Homo sapiens: one gene and its partner. The protein of the gene in region 2 interacts with the protein of the main gene of each other region in a biochemical or structural test. Each region holds a gene or a part of one and is shown on either strand. Other genes may lie near its edges. The genes, in order: MLNR and GHRL.

Region 1 (7,613 bases), on a different chromosome or scaffold from region 2:
TGGCCAGTGGCACTGGGAAGGTCCCATGGGCAGTGTCAAGGAGAAGTGGGTTGCAACACAATTGCTTAATACTTCTGAAAGAGGCTATTATTTTGCCTAAACTTTATGATTTGCTGTGATCTGGAGAGAGGTGGGACCCCTGAACACTGGAGTCTACCCAGAATTCCTTTTACTTCTAAAAGTTTTTGCAGCCATACATAGGTATTAAATCATTTCTTGGATCAAAACTATCATTATCCTGGTTCCTTGTAGATGTACTGTTACATTTACATCCAAAACATAAAATACACTCATGATCTCAGAGGTGGCAGTTTTGGGGCAGCATCTTTGTGTATCATTTAACTGTAAAATGAACAATCATCTTTCCGAAGAGTAGGAGAATGAGGACTTCATGAAACCATCACACAAGAGCACACTTTGAGATGTGGGATTTCATGATGGTAAAATCGACCTTCCTTAGGAGGTACGTGGGAAGGAAACTAGAAAGGTTGGCGCAGTTACATTTCATACCTTGGTTAAATAAATCATGCGGTCTATTTCTTAACCAACTGGCACAACTGCAACCCTCTTTCCATTCTTCTTAACAGGATCTGTTCCTCATTTGCAGTCTTTATTTCTCTACACACCTGTTTTCCCCAAAGTCTTAGAACTGCAAGAGGAGCCTGGCTTGGCCGTGCTGGTTATCCCATCGTCTTCACGTTAGCGCTTGTCTCGGTGTAGCCCACCGTGTCTCCTCCAGTGTCCCCTGCAACTTCCCCCGCAGTGTCCCTGCTTCTGTGGAAGCCTCTCGGCCTGGACTTCCTTGCGAGCAGCAGTTTAAAGGCCGCCGCTCTGTACTTCTTTGAAATGAGGTTGTAGAGGATTGGGTTGATAGATGCGCTCAGATAGAAAAGTTGCAGAGCGACGATGTTAAAGTACTGAGAGAAGTACATCATCCGCGAATCTTCCGTGTTTATGTAAATGATTCTGCCAACGTGGAAGGGCAACCAGCAAATTATAAATGCCAGAACCACCACCACTGCAACATAAGACACAGCACCGGGATTAACAAAAGCATTGGGAAGCAAATAAACCCCCCACCCCGACAAGGAACCATCTGCAATAACAAGTAACAGCAAAATAAATTAGAGAAAACTTCTACCTAGGCAGATCCTCACCCCAGAAAAAATGACCAGGCTGCAGGCTGCATGGATACTTGCTTTAAAACTGCATAGTAGGCTCCCATATGTGTTATCAAGGCTGGACATAAACCAGAAGGAGCAATTTCTCTGAACAAGCCGCCTTGGCAGGCTTCCTTCCACAAACCCACTTCGGAGACAAGTTTTCTGTTCTCTGTTGAAAAGAATTCTACAACAGGTCTGCACAATCTTTACTTTTTGATACGAGCAAGGTTTACTTTAGCCTTCAGCATCACTTAACATTAAATAAAAAATTTTAGCTTAATGAAATCTCCCTCGTCTTCTCAAGAGCACTGTGAGGACTCCTCATCTGTGGCATCTAACAGGTGGTTGGATTAAGAATTACCAACTCTCCTTTCTGGTCTCAGAGGCTCTGGAAAAGCACTGCTGGTTACTGAATCGGATCCGGGGATCCCACCCTCAAAGCGCCCTGGGGTCCCCCAGAGCTCCTGGGGGACAGGACATGGTTTTCTCGGGGGATGGGAAGTACCGGCGGGTGGAGGCTGGAATCGAAATAGGAAAGGGAGCTGGAAGCGGCGCCCAGAGCTGGGCGAGCAGGGGAAGGGGACCCAGCGTTTGCGCGGTCCCCGGCGGGGCGGACTGCAGGCAGGCGTCTTTGGAACCACGGCGGCTCCACTTACGCAGGACGCGGACGGTCTGCCGGTGGCCTCTCTCCCGCCCCGAGGCGGCCGGGCCTCGCAGCGGCCGCCGGCTGCTCCACAGCTCCCGCCCGATGAGCCCGTAGAGGATGCTGAGGCACAGAAAGGGCAGGAAGAAGTAGGCGGTGGTGACCCACAGCATGACACGCAGCGCGCCCAGCTGCGCGGGGCTCGGCCGGCATTCGCGGCTGAACAGCGCCGCGGCCTCCGCGGTCTCGGGCCCCGACGGCGGGGACGGCGGTGGCGCCCGCGAGAGCCAGAGAGGCGGCGACGAGGCGAGAGGCGAGGAGGCGATCCGCGCGGTGCCATTGAGGCCCGGGACTACGGAGATGCCGGGGTCCTGCTCGACGCCCACCAGGAACAAGAAGGGACCGGCAGAGAGCAGCGCCACGGCCCAGAGCACAGCGATGAGCGCGCGGACGCGGCGCCGGGTGACCAAGACGCGGGCGCGGAGCGGGCGGCAGATGGCCAGGTAGCGCTCGACGCTGAGCGCGGTCATGTGCAGCAGCGTGGCGTAGGTGCAGCCCTCGCCCACGTAGAGGGACAGGCGGCAGAGCAGCGGCCCGAACACCCAGGGCCGCGAGCGCCAGAGGCGGTACAGGTCGAACGGCAGCCCGAGCAGGATGAGTAGGTCGGACACGGCCATGCTGCCCAGGTACAAGTTGGTGGTGGTCCGCATGTCCCGGTAGCGCCCGATCAGCATCACGGTCACCACGTTGCCGCTCACCCCGACGACGAACAGGCACAGGCACACAGCGGTCACCGGCACCAGCGCCCCCAGGGGAAAGGGCGAGCAGCGGCGCTCGTCGCAAGGCGGCAGCGCGGGCCACGGCGGCTCCCGCGCCCCCTCGGGGCCGTCGCTGCCGTTCCAGGGGCTGCCCATGGGTGCTCCGCGCGGCCGCCGCGTCCCGGGTCGGGCTGGGAGCCTGGCGCGTGGTCCCTCTCGGTGAGCGCCTCCTTTCCCAGCCCGCACGCTGCGGGCGCGGCAGGTCAGACGGCGGAGCGCTGCGCTGCGCTGCGGGGCGCGAGAAGCGGCTCTGCGGGGTGGGCTCCGAGGCGCTCCCGAGCTAGCTGCGCGCAGTCTCCGCCCACGGCCGCGGCCCGCCCCGGCCCGGCCCTGCTCCGCTCCCGCGCCCTCTCCCGGGCCCATGCAGTTCCAGGGCGCTTCCCTCTCCACTAACTGGAATACCCGGCGCCCTTAGCGCACGAGCCCTACCCGGTCCGGTGAGCGATGTCTGCACCCTAGACAGCTTTGGTTACAGGACTGAGCACTGTACGGGCGCTTTTGTCAGTCTGGTACTCCGGGCACCTTCGAAGGGATCTGGTCTGGTGGCTGGTAGCTGCCGCTTGACGGTGGAGGAGGGCTCATGGTAATCCTCAGGAAGCCATAATGCTAAATAATAGGAGGGGAGTCTAGACCAGAATCTAGAGCCTCTCCTGTCTAATCCTGGCTCTACAACCGAGTAACTTGTGTAATCTTGGGCTAGTCCTGGTCTCGCCCAGCCCAGTTCTCCTCTTCTGTAAATTCGCGAGTGGTGGAGGGAGCTGACCATATAATTGACCAAATAATTTCTTTTTTTTCTTTTTTTCTTTCTTTCTTTCTTTTTTTCTTCTTGAGACAGGGTCTCACTGTCGTCCAGGCTGGAGTTTAAGTGGCGCGATCACAGCTCACTGCAGCCTCGACCTCCCAGGCTCAAGCAGTCCTCCCACCTCAGCCTCCTGAGTAGCTGGGAGCACAGGAGCGCCCAAGCCCCGGCTAAATTTTGTGTTTTTTGTGTAGTCAGGGTTTCGCCATGTTGGCCAGCCTGGTCTCGAACTCCTGACCCCAGGTGGTCCACCCGCCTCGACCTCCCAAAGTGCTGGGATTACAGGCGTGAGCCACCGCGCCCGGCAGTGACCAGATAATTTCAAGGATCCGTGAGCATGTTTACTTATTATAAAGAACAAGACAAATATTTACGTGGACACTAGAGTACTTTCACATGTGATATGTCATTCTTATGTACAACATGTTTTATAAACTTAAAAAACTAGAGGATTTGTCAACACCGGAAAGAACGAAAATTGGGGAAAGGGGCTAAAACGGATGTTCAGTCTGTTCGGTGTGGTCTTAATAACAATAGCTAACACTTACTGAGAATTTAGATGGATCTGGCCCTGTGCTCTCCATTTAATCCTCATGGCCCGGGGCGCTCCTTTCGCCCATGAACAAAGCGGTCTTGCTTGAGATCAAGCAGGCAGTAAGAGGCGGGACTGGGATATGGGCTCTGGTCGGCCTAATCCCAGAGCTTGCAAGCCTGACGTCCTACTCACTGCCCAGCTCCACCCCCTCAGTGGCTTAAATCCTCAACCTCTTCTCTGGAGTCTCGATTCTGGACCTGACACCTGGCTTTGCCTAGGGCAAGCTTCTCCTGCAGTTCTCTCTCACATGCAGACTGTGAGCTTGGAGGAGGGACACCTGTCGCCTCCCTCATCGCTGCTGTTTCCAGCGGTCCTAAAACCGCCCTCCCTAGCGCTTTCCTCCGTGGTCACCCGTAGTCCCTGAGGGACAGGTGCCTGCGCTCTCTTTGAAGCACTGCATCTGCGGCCGTTCACACCCATGCCGAGTCTTGGAATGCCTTGGCCTCTAGTTTGTTGACCTCCTTTCCACCTATGACCTTGCTCTCCACCCGATCTCAGCCGCGCCTGTCGACGGAACTTACACCTCACGGTTGCCTGCCAGCCTTCCTCCACCTCCACTTCAGTCAGCCCTCTTTCTGACCTCCGCCCGCTCTCTTTTTAGCTCTCTTCCCCTAGCACCTCAGTTCCGGTAATCCTTCAACCCACTGCGACCTCCATCGCTGGCTCCTCCTTCCTTTTCCCGGTCCCTTGCCTGCCCCAGGTCTTCACTTTCTTCCTTTACCCAACGTAAATTCCACGGGCAGTCGCCATCACTCCCACACAGACGCCCTCGACTCCCTTGCTCTTTTCTCCATTGTCAGCCTCGTCCATCCACCAAGAGCACCACAACCCTGGTGAAGCCGAATTCCCTGCCTACTCCTTGCCTGCTCTCACATGGCGTTGTTTCACTTGAAAGCACAACCTCTAGCGGGGTGCTTCGTTCCCCCGGCCTTCCCAACTCTCACCTGACCTCATTCACTCTCCCACCACCAGGCTGCTGGTTTATACCCCCTCCTCTCTCCTTAGACCCAACACCCACCACCCCTTCCTTTGGGAGGTTTCCTTGCACCCTGTTTCTCTGAAGATAACTACCACACCCCCACCTCTGCTCGTGCTCCCCTGGGACAGTTGGTGGTACTTGCAGCTGAAGTCAGCTCTGCCCCTTAAGTGCTCCTTTCTCCTCCTCCAGACATCACTGCGTCAATTCTCTTTCTCTCTCTCTTGTCATCAGTTTTTCTCTCCTGGATCATTTTCATGCAAAACTCCTCAAAATAGTTTCTGTACTCACAGTTTCCACTTTTTCTTCCTCCCTGTCTCCTCCCCCTAGGCAGAGAAAATGTAATTTCTTCATTTATAGTTGATTTGATTTTCCCCTGTGCTCTCAACAAGAGAAATGAATGCTCTAGCCTAGGTAAGGCATGATCCAGGCGGATCAGTTAAGCAGCCCCTCTGGGCAGTGTTCCCTTCTCTCAGACATCATGCCTTTCCTCAAGGTGGCCCAGGTGTACGGGGAGAGGGGTCAGTGGCTTAAAGCTAGAGGGAGAGGTCCTTATGAAGCTTCACGCCGGCTCCTGGGGTGTCAGGGGCTGGCATTTGCTAGACTCCAGTTCCATGTTCCCTTCCTGCCTGGTCACCAGTGGCTCTGCTAGCCTTGGGCGCATGGGCCTGTGGCTAGTGAAGAGGTAGCTTCTTTCTTGGACTCAGGTGATGCTATCAGGAGCACTTGACATCTTCCCCATGGCTCTCATGGGCTGCGAATCCCTGAGTCTCTTTGGTTTTTCCCATTTGCTCCTTGGCCTGATGGACTACCCCAGCCTCTGCTGAAGCCTCCCTTATTCCCTTCCCCACCCACCATGGTGGCGCTGAGGCAGGCTCACTGAGTCTGCAGTCAGCATCCTGGCTGTTGTGAATTACTCACCTCCATTCAGGCACTCCCTCTCTATGGTATTTTCTCCATATTGCTTATTATCAACTGACATACTATTTAATTTACCTAGCTATTTGTTTATTATCTATCTCTATCTCCCAACATTATGTGCACCAGAAGGCAGGGCTTTAATCTGCTGTGTTCACTGCTGTTTCCTTAGTGCCTGGCACAAAGTGAGAATTTAATAAATATTTGTTAACTTGGAGAATGAATGAGCTTCTGTAGAACCAGGTACCATTGTTTTCTTTACAATTCCTAGCCGTTAAAACAGTGCTCTGATTGTAGTGGGTGCTCAGTAAGTAGTCACTGATACTTCAGCTTAAGACAGAATACTGATATGGAGAGGTGGAGACCCAGCGGGCTTTTTTGATAACATTGCTATGCTGAGGTTCAAACATAACTTGGCCCTTAGGACATATCTGAGCTCTTATGATGGGTTGGCATTCAATGTTTTAGGAAGGAATGGGACCAGATCTGTTTTCTACTTTGTGTTTCTGTAGACATTCACCAGCTTCCTGACTTCATAGTTAATCTAGCGAGAGGAAGAGGAAGTTCTCAGTAGACCGGGAGCATGGGCGTCTCTCTTCTTTACTCTTTGAGTACCTCTCCACCTGTAACTCATGTGGGGCAAGGGTGGGTCTAGGTTTGGCCCAGCTACGGCCTGCGTCCCCAGAGGCAAGAGGTTGGTGTCATCAATAGGCTCTTGGCCCCGGGCTGGAGGCCTCACTTGTTGGCTTTTGATGAATATAAAGGGATGGTCTGGATGAATATAAAGCTAATGCTTGCTGTGTGCAAGGCACTGTTCCAAGTACTTTCATATCTGAATGCATTTAATCCTCCACAGCAGTCCAAGGCAGCAGGTTCTTTTAGTATCTCTATGTTAGAGATGAGAAGAGCAAAGCACAGAGAAGTGACCCCAGGTCACTGGGACAGCCAGTAAGGGTGGTGCTGTCCACTTCCAGAGTCCATGGGCATAACTACTGTGCTGGGTGGCCTCTTGCTATACAGACCATAGCACCACCAGCTGCAGAGAATGCTAGGTTATGATCTGGATTCTGCTAGGAAAGTGTCTTCCAGTGTCTTTCTCAGAAACCAGATTTTATGGGCAAATTGAAGAATCTGGAAAGTTGTGAGGAGCATTAAAATACCTCCGTAACGGCCGGGCGCGGTGGCTCACGCCTGTAATCCCAGCACTTTGGGAGGCCGAGGCGGGCGGATCACGAGGTCAGGAGATCGAGACCATCCCGGCTAAAACGGTGAAACCCCGTCTCTACTAAAAATACAAAAAATTAGCCAGGCGTAGTGGCGGGCGCCTGTAGTCCCAGCTACTTGGGAGGCTGAGGCAGGAGAATGGCGTGAACCCGGGAGGCGGAGCTTGCAGTGAGCCGAGATCCCGCCACTGCACTCCAGCCTGGGCGACAGAGCGAGACTCCGTCTCAAAAAAAAAAAAAAAAAAAAATACATCCGTAACTTGTACAATAGTTTACTTATGTAAACTTGTAAACACTCCACAGGCTTTACACTCTTTTCCCCACATAAGAGCAAGGCATGAAGTTTGTAGAGATGGGGGTCTCCCTAGATTGCCCAGGCTGCTCTTGAACTCCTGGGCTCAAGTGATCCACCCTCCTCTGCCTCCCAAAGTGCTGGGAATACAGATGTGAGCCACGGAGCCTGGCCATTTCATAATGT
Region 2 (5,038 bases):
AAGTCAGTCCACATGTTTAGGCTAAGGTGGGCATGACCGAGTGGCCTTCCCCCGGGAAGACCAGTGTCGTAACTGGAATTAAGTTGTGGAACATAAGAGTCAAGGCTCGTGTCTGCTGTGAACTGGAGTTGAGGGAATGTTTGGGGATCCCACCTGGTATCAGTAAGGGAACCATGGCGACGGCCAGCCTTGCCCATGTGAGGCATTTGCTTTGTCAGGCCTTCTCAGTAGTGGAGAAGGGAGGAAGGAGAATGCAGCTCTTTCAGTGCTGTCTAGCAGTGCCCAAGAGCCGTGATTGGGCACCTCACTTAACGTCTAACTTCAGATTCACTCTTGGGCATTCCTGTCTTCCTCTCCAATCTTGAATGGATGTTGGCTTCGATAATGTCATCCTGAAGTTTCTTTGTCCACACAGCCCTGGCTGGTTGTTAATAAGCTGTTAATGCAGCCTTGCACTCAGGAAGCCCTGATGTTTAAAGGAACTGTGTCTTTGTTCTTCCTCTCTTCCCTCTTTCTCTTAGTCCCACTTTATCTCTTCTTTCTCTTCCTCTCCCTCCTCCTTTTCCCCTCTCCCTCCTACTCTCCCCCTTTCTCTCCTCCTTCTCTAAGAAACCCAGTCTTAATTCCACACAATGCATGCACATGCAGTAGCTTCTCTGCTTGAGTGAGCTGGTGTGATTAGGTTTTCTAAACATGCACATTGGCCTTGCTACTTGTCCTTTTATTCCCTTCCCACAGACCATAAACCAAGAATTATTTTTATTTGTATTATTTTGATTTTTTTAAAGTAAAATATTAACTTTTCCTCTTTGAAATAAATTCCCATTTGGAACATCAGCATACAGTTTGAACATTTATTCGCCTCCTGAGCTTGTACAACAGTCGTGGGAGTTGCTGCAGAAGCAAGCGAAAAGCCAGATGAGCGCTTCTAAACTTAGAGAGAGGTGAGTAAGGCTTGTGGGCGATCACTTGTCGGCTGGGGCCTCTGGAAAGCAAGAGGTTGAGTAAGAATGCTGGGTGCACCGTCCTGCTAGTGCTTTTCTTCCACGGTGGTGAGATTGGAGGTGGGATGTAATGGTGGGGGTTGTGGGGAAGCACTGGCCTTGGAGTCAGAGGGCGGCACTCAAGTGTGGACTGTTGTGCCCTGGGCAAGTCACCTCAAAGCTCTGAGTCTTGGTTTCCTCGTTTGCACAGCGGGGTGAATGCTACCCCTGCTGTTCCCCAGGGGTGACGGGTCACCGCCTTGGTGAGGACAGTGCTTTGCAGATGTGCAGGTGTTTCTGCCACCTCAATCAGTTGGGCGGTTTCTTTTTTTTCTTTTACAAGGTGAGGGGATTCAAAGCAAACCCTTTGCTTAACTCAGGAAGCTCTAATATTTGAAGGAACTGCTTAACAGGCTGCAGAACCTGTTCTGAGTGCTATTTTGGCACCAATTCCTTTTTGTTTGTGGAGTAAAGTTACGCAGTGAAGACGGTGTAACACCAAATAATTGTAGACTCTCACAATAGGTAAAATAGCTCCATTTTACAGTTAAGGAAGCTGAGGTTCAACTGAGGCCCCAAAGCTAGTTAATGTACTAGTTCTTAGAACATTCTTTGAACACAAAGACTATGATGAACTCCCTTCTGAGCCACTCACAAATACTAGCCAACCACTATCCTGCAGATCTTTGGGAAAGGGAAATTAGAAGTTCTTTTGGAGAGGCAGAGGTTGGGGAAAACTCATCACCCACAGAGTGAACTCCCATGTGGGGCTGCAAGGAAACCGAGCAAACCCAGTCCAGGCAGGACTCACCTTTGGCCTCTTCCCAGAGGATGTCCTGAAGAAACTTCCCCAGGGCCTGGCTGTGCTGCTGGTACTGAACCCCTGACAGCTTGATTCCAACATCAAAGGGGGCGTTGAACTAGGAGGCAGGGCAGGGAGGACCCAGGAGATGTCAGAGGTCATGCCCATCCCCATCTCAAAGGGGGCTCTGGGCTCTCTGCCTCTCTTCAGGAGTGGAGAGGGAGAATGGCCTTTGGGCCCCAGCAGGGACTGCTGAGTGACACCTCAGCCAGGTTCTCTTCCTTTCTCAGGACCACAGCTCACCTTCCCACTCACCATCTTTCAGACACTTACCTTGCACTCTCATGCCTCTCAGCCTTAGCCTCTAATGGGATTGCTGATAAAAGCTGTGGTGCCCCCTAGTGTGAGATTTTTTTTCTCCCTTGCAGTTTTGAAGACAAAAGGTTGAGTCACCAATGGCAGCATTTCAGGCCCTGGCAGGGGGTCTGCCCAGCATTCTCAGCACTGGCCTGCTGGCCTTCTATTCCTTCCCTGCTCCCAGCTCTTTCTCCTTTCTCTCTTGTCTGTTTCTTCTCCTTTTTCTCCTTCCCTAGGTATTTTTTCTCTCATATGCATAGACCTTTCTTTGATGCCTGGAAAATCAAAAGGAAGTTGATGTTTTCCTAGAAAGAGGCTCTGAGCCAAGTCCTTTCTGTGCTTCCATTTCTTCCCCTCTACAGGGAGAGCGCCTCATCTCTTCCATTTTCCAGGTATTCCTGAGATGATTTATTGGAGCTCAAAGCTTTGGGTAAGTGGGAAGGAGCTCTGCTGCAGCCACATGGCAGACTTTCCTTGAGAGCAGAGATTGTCTCTGCCAGTGGCTACCTCGGTGCCTGGCCATATTGGGCACTGACTTATCTGAGTCAGGGAAGGATCTTAGTGCTGGGTCATTTGGTCCTCACAGTAGAAGCCCAAGGAGTTGGAGGCCAAGGACTAGAATGCAGGACTTTTAAACCCACTTGGCCCTGAAAACTGCTTTAGTCCTATTGCCCTTCCTCTGTGTGAGGCCAGGCGTCCTCAGTGCCTCCCTGTGGGGTAGGCGCTACCACTGTGCCCATTTTACAGGTGAGGACAGAGGCGCAGAGAAGCTATTAACCAATAGCTATGCGTTCCCTTTTCGAAATCTCCCTCCCCTTAACTCCACCATGAAGGTGGACCCAGTGGGGAATGACATGATTGAATTTTTTTTTTTTTTTTTTTTTTTTTTTAAGGAGAGTTGGGGCCTTCCATTCCCTCCAGTAAATACTTGTTTTTCTTCCACCGCTGAGGCAAATGCGGGGTGGCTGATCACCTGGCAGACATCTTAGGAAACAGGAGCACCGGTCTGGGAAACTGCTGGCCTGGCCTAACACCTGGCGCTGTGGTGCAGGCAAGTGAGTGGTGACACAGTGCTGGCTGGTGGGGGGCAGCTTCCCTCCTGGCCTCAGTGGCCCATCTGTTCAATGGGAGTGGGACTTGGTCTCCAAAGTCTTCTACTCTGAAACTTGATTTTGGGAGGGAAACGTTTGGGGGGAGGTAGAGGGGCCTGAGATGAGAGAGGTGGGTGGGACACTCGGTTGTGAGGGGTTTGGTAGTGGGGCGCTCCAGGTCTCTGCAGCCACTCCTCTTCTGGCAGCCCCAACACCCCCCAGGCGTTTGACTTCTGGTTCCAGCCAAGGCAGTGTGGGTCACATGCTCCAAGGCTAGCTTTCACAGAAACTGCAAAGTTCCCGCTGTACCAGCCCCACCTTGCGTCGTCAGCCACCAAGACCTCTTTCTCATCTGGGTACTGGGCAGCTCCTCTGGCTGGGATGACCATGTGTGGAGCTAGCCGTCTCACCAGCAAAATATCCTGGTTTTGGCCTAAGGGTATGCAGCTCTTTCAGATGAGAATCTAGTGGATCCCACCGTGTAGAGGAAAGGTCTGAACACCGCCAGGTGCTGGTGAGGATGAAAGCGAGCAGGGGCTGGGGGAGCTTCCGACGGCTTTATTCCTCGACTGGAGAAGAGTATGGTAAACAGGCAGGCAGAGGCCAAGGCGGGCACATTTCACTCCTCTGGAAGGAAGAGGCCTCCCCTGGGCCACTGTGCGCTGTCTCTGTCCATCAGACCAGTGAGGAGGAAGAGGGCTTGGGGACTGGAGTCAGCCCTGACCTTGTGTCGCGTCCCTTCCACACACCGCTGTGGTACCTTGGGCAAGTGAGTTCACCTCTGAACTGTTCCTTGGCTCTAAAGTGGGAGTAATGCCAGCCCTGCTTACCTCACAGGTTGTCGTAGGGAGGAGGTGGGGCAGTTAGAGGTGAAGTTGGTATCCTCGGGCACAGCGTCTAATAGCTGCCATTATTAAGTGCTACCTTGGGGGAATCCTGCCTTAGCTGCGAAATGGTGTCACCAACCAAATATTTAGAAGAAACCATTCCCTGAACCACAGCCACAGGAAGGTTGCATAGAAAACCCCGTAAAATCCTTTACTCCCTCCTCCTCTCCATCCTTGGGTTGTCTTAACTTTCTCCTTGCCCCACGCACGATTTGTCAGAGCACATCACCCACACCTGCCCCCTCCTTGCCTCCAGGCGAGGTGAGTGGGTGCCGGAGCCTGGGCTGGCGCCAGCCCTCCCATCCAGGGTGCTGTTCGGAAGCACTCCACCCCACAGTCCAGGCCCTGGAAGCCCCTGAGTAAAACATGGTTTTCTGCAGAGCAACATCTTCAGTCTGGGCCTGCCGTTTATTTCTGGGTGTCTTTGTCTCTGGGCACTGTATTTTCTGTCCCCTTTGAGTCGCCTGGAGGCTCTGGCACCCTCTCTCCTCTGCCCAGGCTCCTTCCGTCCCTATTCTGTTGTAGCAAAGTTACTTCTTCTAGATATTTTTCTCTTAATGGGTAAAGACCTCACAGAGCCCAGGGCAGAGCTCAACTCCTGTGGTACTGGTTTTATAGTTCTGGGGAGCTTGTAGTTGGGACCCTGTTCACTGCCACCTCTCCCTGCCCTCCCTCTCCCCTGACCCCACCCTCCTCGCTGCCACAGAAGCATAAAACTGCAGAGGTACCGACCCGGACTTCCAGTTCATCCTCTGCCCCTTCTGCTTGACCTCCATCTTCCGGGCGGAGCCAGCCTGCTAGAGCTCGGGGCTGCAGCTTGGCTGGTGGCTTCTTCGACTCCTTTCTCTGCTGGAAGGGGGAAACAGTCTGTTTAGGACTCTAAGCCCCCATGTCCTTCCAGAAACAGTGAGGTCAGAC

Evidence for each region.
Region 1: the proteins of GHRL (region 2) and MLNR form a complex in vitro, tested with the Homo sapiens proteins (one study listed by BioGRID).

What each region holds. Positions count from the first base shown.
Region 1 is NC_000013.11:49,215,445-49,223,057, reverse strand, and holds MLNR (motilin receptor), read right to left. Parts: upstream 2,721-7,613; coding exon 1,820-2,720; intron 1,019-1,819; coding exon 681-1,018; downstream 1-680. UniProt on the Homo sapiens protein: Receptor for motilin.
Region 2 is NC_000003.12:10,284,910-10,289,947, forward strand, and holds the end of GHRL (appetite-regulating hormone isoform 1 preproprotein), read right to left. Parts: intron 4,970-5,038; coding exon 4,853-4,969; intron 3,198-4,852; exon of another isoform or gene 3,036-3,197; intron 2,573-3,035; exon of another isoform or gene 2,379-2,572; intron 1,904-2,378; coding exon 1,795-1,903; intron 986-1,794; coding exon 966-985; 3' UTR 757-965; downstream 1-756.